3 separate regions of the Homo sapiens genome follow, and regions 1 and 3 are each linked to region 2. Evidence: fine-mapped expression QTL. A gene starts in region 2. Each other region holds a variant in brackets. All regions are shown on one strand. Distances are between the middles of the regions. Region 1 has its middle 50 kb from the start of GNS. Region 2 holds the start of GNS (glucosamine (N-acetyl)-6-sulfatase). Region 3 overlaps GNS (glucosamine (N-acetyl)-6-sulfatase).

The links. PIP is the estimated chance that this variant, and not a neighbour inherited with it, causes the effect.
Region 1: its variant is fine-mapped to the expression of GNS in whole blood (TOPMed, PIP above 0.99).
Region 3: its variant is fine-mapped to the expression of GNS in pancreas (GTEx, PIP above 0.99). The same link has a PIP of 0.9 or more in nasal epithelium.

What each region holds. Positions count from the first base shown.
Region 1 is chr12:64,708,407-64,711,167 of GRCh38, reverse strand. No RefSeq gene overlaps it. Among named protein-coding and RNA genes, the nearest start is that of GNS, 50 kb to the left of the region's middle. The variant T/GGT (reference allele first, on the strand shown) is at 1,472.
Region 2 is chr12:64,757,811-64,760,571 of GRCh38, reverse strand. It overlaps GNS (glucosamine (N-acetyl)-6-sulfatase), which reads left to right and starts at 1,166. Exons shown (of 14, transcript NM_002076.4): 1 at 1,166-1,487. The coding sequence starts at 1,296. It also overlaps a transcript of TBC1D30 not described here. RefSeq lists an enhancer at 1,740-2,620.
Region 3 is chr12:64,715,025-64,717,738 of GRCh38, reverse strand. GNS (glucosamine (N-acetyl)-6-sulfatase) reads left to right here. Exons shown (of 14, transcript NM_002076.4): 14 at 920-2,714. The coding sequence ends at 998. Among named protein-coding and RNA genes, the nearest start is that of GNS, 43 kb to the left of the region's middle. The variant C/T (reference allele first, on the strand shown) is at 1,267.

The DNA.
Region 1 (2,761 bases), 49 kb after region 2:
CTGGTGCCTGCCCTGTAGAACCAAATTCCCTACAGAAGTAGTGTTTGTTTCATCTTCCTCTACCACCAGTGGATTTATTTTTATTTTTTGAGACAGGGTCTCGCTCTGTTGCCCAGGCTCGATGCAGTGGCCCTATGTTGGCACACCACAACCTCTGTCTCCCAGGCTCAACTGATCCTCCCATCTCAGCCTCCCAAGTAGCTGAGACTAAAGGCACACACCACCATGCCCAGCTAATTTTTGTATTTCTAATAGAGACGGGGTTTTGCCATGTTGCCCAGGCTGGTCTTGAACGCCTGGGCTCAAGAGAGCCATCTGCCTTGGCCTCCCAAAGTGCTGGGATAATGGGCATGAACCACTGCACCCAGCCACCACCAGTGGATATAAAGGGCTGGTAATATGTATACACGAAAGTCTGTTGAGGCAAGAGCTGACAACCAGAGAACCCAAAGGATACAAGCTAAAAGCATCGTGCTGAGATCTCTATTGATGGCCTAGAATCACTGAATAAGACAAGATTTAGATGTGGGACATGGGAGCTAGCTCCTGGAGTATGGTAGAGTAGATGACAGTTCTAAATCTTTTTTTTTTTTTTTTTTTTTTTTTTGAGATGGAGTCTTGCTCTGTCGCCCAGGCTGGATTGCAATGGCGCAATCTCGGCTCACTGCAACCTCCGCCTCCCGGGTTCAAGCGATTCTCCTGCCTCAGCCTCCCGAATAGCTGAGATTACAGGCGCCTGCCACCACACCAGGCTAATTTTTGTATTTTTAGTAGAGACGGGGTTTCACCATGTTGGCCAGGATGGTCTCCGACTCTTGACCTCGTGATCTGCCTGCCTCGGCCTCCCAAAGTGCTGGGATTACAGGCGTGAGCCACCGCGCCCAGCCTTAACAATTCTAAATCTTAGTCTTTGAGAGGAAGATTTCATGATCACCTGCTGGTGAGACTGATATCCATATATGTCATCATAACCTGCACCTCTAACTGATGATGATAGGTTCTCAAAGGATAGAGAGATATAAAGATGCTTGTAATTATCATTTTAGGAGGATAAAACAGCTCCATAAGATAGATTTATTTCCCTCAGCTTAATTTATCGAAACTCACAAAGCTAATTCGTCAAAGAAGAGTCAGAATTTCAAAGATGTGGTTTTAAAGCCATCTTTCCATTAACTCTGCTGTCACCATGATCTGTGAGGCTGTGTCCCCACCTCATTATATATGTGAGTGCCTACTCTGCCTGGTGGTGAGCTTAGTTACAAAAGGGAATTATTCTATTCCTCCAGGACATTACTATGTAGACTGAAAAGAGAACTCGTCTCTCATACCTGTACTTACAGGGAAACTATGGTTTCAGACTAAGAGGAGAAGGTGCCACTGCCATTCAAGTGTCTTCTTGTCCTGCACTATAGCCTTGCTGTCAGAAAACAAGTAAAAAGAGGGCTCCTCTCTGTATGCCTCATTTAACTGT[T/GGT]TCCAGCATGGCTGTGGTAGCCAGCCTCCAAGATGGCGCCTAATTATCCTTGTGCAGTTTCCTCCCACAATGCATCAGGGTTGGTCCATGTGACCAGTAGAATAGGGCACCTGTGATGCTGTGTGACTTCCACAACTAGGTCCTAAAAGACATGGCCACTTCTGCCTTGCTCTCTCTTGGATAACTCTCGGAGAAAACTATTGCCATATCAATGACACCAAAGTAGATCTTTGGTAAGGTCCACATGGTGAGGATCTGAGGCTTCTTGAAAACAACCAGCCCCAACTTGCCAGGCATGTGAGAGAGCCACCTTGGAAGCAGATCCTCCAAGCCCCAGTCAAGACTTCAGATGACTGCAGCCCTAGCCATCATCTTAACTGCAGCCTCGTGAGAGACCAAGCAAGGACCATCAAGCTAAGCTGCTACTAGACTCCTGACCCACAGAATATAACAACATGATCTAAAAAATGGTTTTTGTTTTTTGTTGTTTTTTTTTGAGATGGAGTTTCGCTCTTGTTGGCCAGGCCGGAGTGCAATGGCACGATCTCGGCTCAGGACAACCTCTGCCTCCCAGGTTCAAGCAATCCTCCTGCCTCAGCCTCCTGAGTAGCTGGGATTACAGGCATGCACCACCACGCCTGGCTAATTTTGTATTTTTAGTAGATACGGGGTTTCTCCATGTCGAGGCTGGTCTTGAACTCCTGACATCAGGTGATCTGCCCTCCTCGGCCTCCCAAAGTCCTGGGATTACAGGCGTGAGCCACTGCGCCCAGCCTAAAAAATGTTTAATGCTGTTGTAAGCTGCTGGTTTGGGGGTAACTTGATATGCAGCAATATATAACTAATATAATGACCGAAGCTGGTTTACTGAGAGAAACTGGGCCAGCCTTTTGCCAAATCTATTAGGCGGGTGCAAAAGTTTTGCCAATGACAAAAAACCGCGATTACTTTTGCACCCACTGCACCCAACTGTAGGTACCTGTAGTGAAACCGTGCCCCAAAAAGTTAAAGAAAAATGACTAAATTCTTGGACTTACAGGATAGCAGATAAGAAAAGAACTTGCTAAAAAACTAAAACTGGCTGGGCATGGTGGCTCATGCCTGTAATACCAGCACTTTGGGAGGCCAAGGCAGGTGGATCACCTGAGGTCAGGAGTTCGAGACCAGCCTGGGCAACATGGTGAAACCCCCGTCTCTACTAAAAATACAAAAATTAGCTGGGCGTGGTGGCAGGTACCTGTAATCCCAGCTACTCAGGAGGCTGAGGCAAGAGAATCACTTGAACCCAGG
Region 2 (2,761 bases):
TTGTTTGTTTGTTTGTTTTGAGACAAGAGTCTCGCTCTGTCCCTGAGGCCAGAGTGCAGTGGCTCACTGCAAGCTCCGCCTCCCGGGTTCAAGCGATTCTCATGCCTCAGCCTCCCGAGTAGCTGGGATTACAGGCGCCTGCCACCACGCCCAGCTAATTTTTGTATTTTAGTAGAGACGGGGTTTCCCCACGTTGGCCAGGCTGGTCTAAAACTCCTGACCTCAGGTGATCCACCCGCCTCCCAAAGTGCTGGGATTACAAGCGTGAGCCACCGCGCCCACGGTGGGCGGTGAGAGGAGAGGGGCAAAGTCTAATTATTCCAGAGCGACCACAGAAATATCTGGAGCTAGTTTCAAGGGCTATTCCCCGCTAAAGATTACTTAATAATGCAGTTGGATGACCACGTTTCAAGATTTTTGTTCGATCTGCACATCCTCCAACATGTTCCAAGAGGGTGTTTAAAAAGTCACCAAGGACCATTAGGATAACCATTAGGATAAAGCTGTCAGGACATCCCTAAATTGTTTGAAACTACGATGTCTGCTGAGGAAAGAAGAACATAATTAGGCTTTGGAGTTAAGAGAGCTAACCAGTTCCGAATTTAATGTCTGAGCCAAATGAGAATGTTAAGATTTATCTCACAAGTTGTAGAGAAAATTAAAAACGATTAAACATCCGGGCCTTGAATAAGTGCCCGTCGACTTGGGGATTAAATATGGTAGAGTCCACTTTCCTCACCAGCTGATGATAATTTCTGTTATGTACAGTCCTCCTTTCTCTTCCTTTATCGGTTGGTTAGTATTTGCCAACTCTTTCCTGCTTTTCATCTTCTCTTCCCCCCATTTAAATCTTTCCACCAAGCGCTCAGAAACACGTACGTCCTACCAGAACGCAACCCGAGCCTGCGCGAGAGGTACGTACAGGTCTTGACCTTTTCCCGGTTCTCCGCCCTTTTCCCGGTTCTCCGCCCTTTTCTCCGGTTCTCCGCCCTTTTCTCCGGTTCTCCGCCCTTTTCTCCGGTTCTCCGCCCCTTTTCCGCCACTGCCTGATGCCTCCCTCCAGGCTGCGCCAGTCCGCAGCCCCGCCCACGCCGGCCGTCACGTGACCGCGCAGCGTGCTCCGCCCCCTGTCCCTGGCTCACGTGATCGCGCCTAGGGAGAAAACGTCTGACTCCAGCCACCGGCCTTCAAGGCACGGCTTTTTATTCCTTCGGCTGGTCGGCCTCTCGCCCTTCAGCTACCTGTGCGTCCCTCCGTCCCGTCCCGTCCCGGGGTCACCCCGGAGCCTGTCCGCTATGCGGCTCCTGCCTCTAGCCCCAGGTCGGCTCCGGCGGGGCAGCCCCCGCCACCTGCCCTCCTGCAGCCCAGCGCTGCTACTGCTGGTGCTGGGCGGCTGCCTGGGGGTCTTCGGGGTGGCTGCGGGAACCCGGAGGCCCAACGTGGTGCTGCTCCTCACGGACGACCAGGACGAAGTGCTCGGCGGCATGGTAACTCTTCTGTTTCTGCCCCGCCCCTCTATCTCTTGGGCTGACTACCCGGTTTGTTGCTCTCTTTCCCGGTCCCCACCACCCTCCTCCCCGAACTGGCTGTCTTATCCTTGGGTAGGTTTGGTTTTCCCACCTGAGGCCCTTTATGCCGGTGTAAGGGACTGCAATACTCTTTTCCTTTCTGGATTGAGGCACATGCGTACAGCACACAGAGCTTCTAGTCTGGACCGTACTGCTGTGGAGTTTACGTTAATATCTCAAGATAAACATGTGGAGACCAGTGGAGGATGGGTTGAACCAATGAGGATCAGGTGCTGTCTAAGAGCACTCAAGGCCTGATTGTTTTTCTTTTGGATTAGAGGATCACAGACAAGTCCAGTCCCCTTTATGAGGGACCTAGACCACCTCCACGTTTGTGCCTGTATACAATGTCTGTATCTGATGTCAATAAAAATAAGCCTGGGCCGGGCGCGGTGTGTCACTCATGTAATCCCAGCACTTTGGGAGGCCGAGGCGGGCGGATCAGAAGGTCAAGAGATCGAGACCATCCTGGCCAACATGGTGAAACCCCGTCTCTACTAGAAATACAATAATTCTAGCTGGGCGTGGTGGCGCGCAGCTGTAGTCCCAGCTACTTGGGAGGCTGAGGAAGGAGAATCGCTTGAACCCGGGAGGCAGCAGTTGCAGTGAGCCGAGATCGCGCCACTGCATTCCAGCCTGGCGACAGAGCGAGACTCCGTCTCCAAAAAAAAAAAAAAAAAAAAAAAAAAAAAAAGGCCTGAAGTGAACTAATCTGGTAGGCCGACCGTCGAACTATTGAGGGTGTGTGTTGCCTCACAAGAATCAAGAAAATTCAATTAGTGTGATTGAACACCTGACTGTTGCATTAGAGACTGTCAGTGTTTCATTTTCTATCTAATGGGTGTTGTCACAAGACTTCATTTTTTTTCCAGAGTAAATTTTGCTTGTGTATTGCAGAATTATGGAATGTGTGACCTTTGGAAACATCCACTCCAACCCCTTCCCCATGGAGGCCCAGAAAGCAACTTGCCCAAGACATGAGTAGTTGAGGCAGAGTCCTCTGACCCTGGGTTCAGCATTCCTCTCTTCGCTTTAAAACCAAATGCTTTATTGCTTTCTTCGTTTCAGTTCTCTTTTTGCTTTCAGCTGAATGCTGAGACTATGAAATACTCCAGGCAAGACGTTCCTAACTTTTCTTGTGTAGTTACACACCCTAGCTCAGTGTCCTTCAAACCTCTGGTCCCAACCCTTGA
Region 3 (2,714 bases), 43 kb after region 2:
GCAGTTTAAGGTGTGGCAGCAAAACTAGAATTCGTTTTTCCTTCTTCATGATTTCACAGATAGAAGATTCATTCCTGGCTGGGCGCGGTGGCTCACATTTGTAATCCCAGCACTTCGGGAGACCAAGGCGGGCAGATCACATGAGCCCAGGAGTTCTAGACCAGCCTGGGCAACATGGTGAAACTCTTGTCTCTACAAAAAAAAAAAAAAAAAAAAAAAATTAGCCAGGTGTGGTGGCGCACGCCAGTGTTCCCAGCTACTCTGGAGGCTTAAGACAGGAGAATCACTTGAGCCGGAGAGGTGGAGGTTGCAGTGAGCTGAAATTGTGCCACTGCACTCCAGCCTGGGCGACAGACTGACTCTGTCCCCCTGCCAGCGCCCCCACCAAAAATGACTCATGTTTATGGTGAGGCTCTTGTAGGTCTTAGCAGTCTTGCTGTATGATTTTTTTCTTTCCTTATTAAGTCAAGAGCGTTCACTTTTTCACTTAAAGGAAGCACTTTATGGCTTCTCTTTGGCATTTCTGAATTGGCAGCACCACTACTCTTGTGGTTTGGAGCCATTGTTAAATAAAATCAGGGTGACTTGAACACAAGCACTGTAATAATGTAACAGTTGATCCACCCCTACTCCCTCAAAAGAAAAAAATCTCAAATCTTGCTGCCTTCTGACACCTTTCAAGACTAACCTACTTGTTTTTCTCCTCTTGACTTGCACTGTGTGACTTTGTGTGTGCTGACTGGTGATAGAAATGTTCGGAACTGTCGAGGGCTCATGTTTTGTACCATAGACTTTCTCACTAGAGTCCCTTCTGGTGATTTGTTTCTTTTACACCCCTTCCTGCTATCCTTTCCACTGAATAATATTCTGAGTGAGAAGCTAGTGAGAGCTAATGTTACATTTGGTTTTTCCTCCCCAGATACAGGTTTGACCCCCGTCTCATGTTCAGCAATCGCGGCAGTGTCAGGACTCGAAGATTTTCCAAACATCTTCTGTAGCGACCTCACACAGCCTCTGCAGATGGATCCCTGCACGCCTCTTTCTGATGAAGTGATTGTAGTAGGTGTCTGTAGCTAGTCTTCAAGACCACACCTGGAAGAGTTTCTGGGCTGGCTTTAAGTCCTGTTTGAAAAAGCAACCCAGTCAGCTGACTTCCTCGTGCAATGTGTTAAACTGTGAACTCTGCCCATGTGTCAGGAGTGGCTGTCTCTGGTCTCTTCCTTTAGCTGACAAGGACACTCCTGAGGTCTTTGTTCTCACTGTATT[C/T]TTTTTATCCTGGGGCCACAGTTCTTGATTATTCCTCTTGTGGTTAAAGACTGAATTTGTAAACCCATTCAGATAAATGGCAGTACTTTAGGACACACACAAACACACAGACACACCTTTTGATATGTAAGCTTGACCTAAAGTCAAAGGACCTGTGTAGCATTTCAGATTGAGCACTTCACTATCAAAAATACTAACATCACATGGCTTGAAGAGTAACCATCAGAGCTGAATCATCCAAGTAAGAACAAGTACCATTGTTGATTGATAAGTAGAGATACATTTTTTATGATGTTCATCACAGTGTGGTAAGGTTGCAAATTCAAAACATGTCACCCAAGCTCTGTTCATGTTTTTGTGAATTCTAGGCTGGTGCTGCACTGAAATAGAGCAGTAAGCTTGTGATAAAGGCCAATTCCAGGTAGCTCTTGAAGGTGATAGCCATCTACTTTCCAGTGGCTGCCAACCACAGGGAGTGCCAGTTAACACTGGAAGGATTAAGGCAAGGTCCCTTCTCTTGAGACTCCCCTCTGAGATCTGAAAAATGAAGTGGCTTAGGAACATCAGCAGTGAAGAACTGCCAAGAGTTGGTGAAGGTTGTCTCTTCCGAGGGCCTTCTGAAGACAGGGCTCTTGAACAGACAAGTGGAAGGGCTGTACCAGGGATAAAGGAAAGAAGTGCCTGTCCAGCAGGGAGCTTGAATTTAAGTTCCATGTATGAAGTCATTGGCTCTATCTGCATTTTTCTGTCATTCTCTTCATTTGTTTTAAGGTGGAAAATTTTCTTACAGTTGATGCAAAGTATCAACTACTTTACCCTACCTTCTCCCCTTTTAGATGGGTTCTTCCTGAGTTTTGGAGTCTTGTATGATTATCAGTATTCCCCTGTCAAAATCAAATCTATTCAGGTTTCTTCACTGTTGAGAACACCTAAATGTTTTTATTTTTGAGAAGTGGGGACAGAGTCTCACTATGTCACCCAGGCTGGAGTGCAATGGCATGATCTCAGCTCACTGCAACCTTCGCCTCCTGGGTTCAAGCGATTCTCCTGCCTCCGCCTCCTGAGTAGCTGGGATTATAGGCACGCACCACCACGCCCAGCTAATTTTTTGTATTTTTAGTAGAGACAGAGTTTCACCATGTTGGCCAGGCTGGTCTTGAACTCCTGACCTTGTGATCCACCCACCTCGGCCTCCCAGAGTGCTGGGATTACAGGCATGAGCCACCACGCTTGGCTAAGAACACCTAAATTTTTATGTTTCTTGGCTCAAAAACCAGTTCCATTTCTAATGTTGTCCTCACAAGAAGGCTAATTGGTGGTGAGACAGCAGGGGAGGAGGAAGAGCTGTGGTTTGTAACTTGTTCAACTCAGGCAATAAGCGATTTTAGCTTTATTTAAAGTCTTCTGTCCAGCTTTAAGCACTTTGTAAGACATGGCTGAAAGTAGCT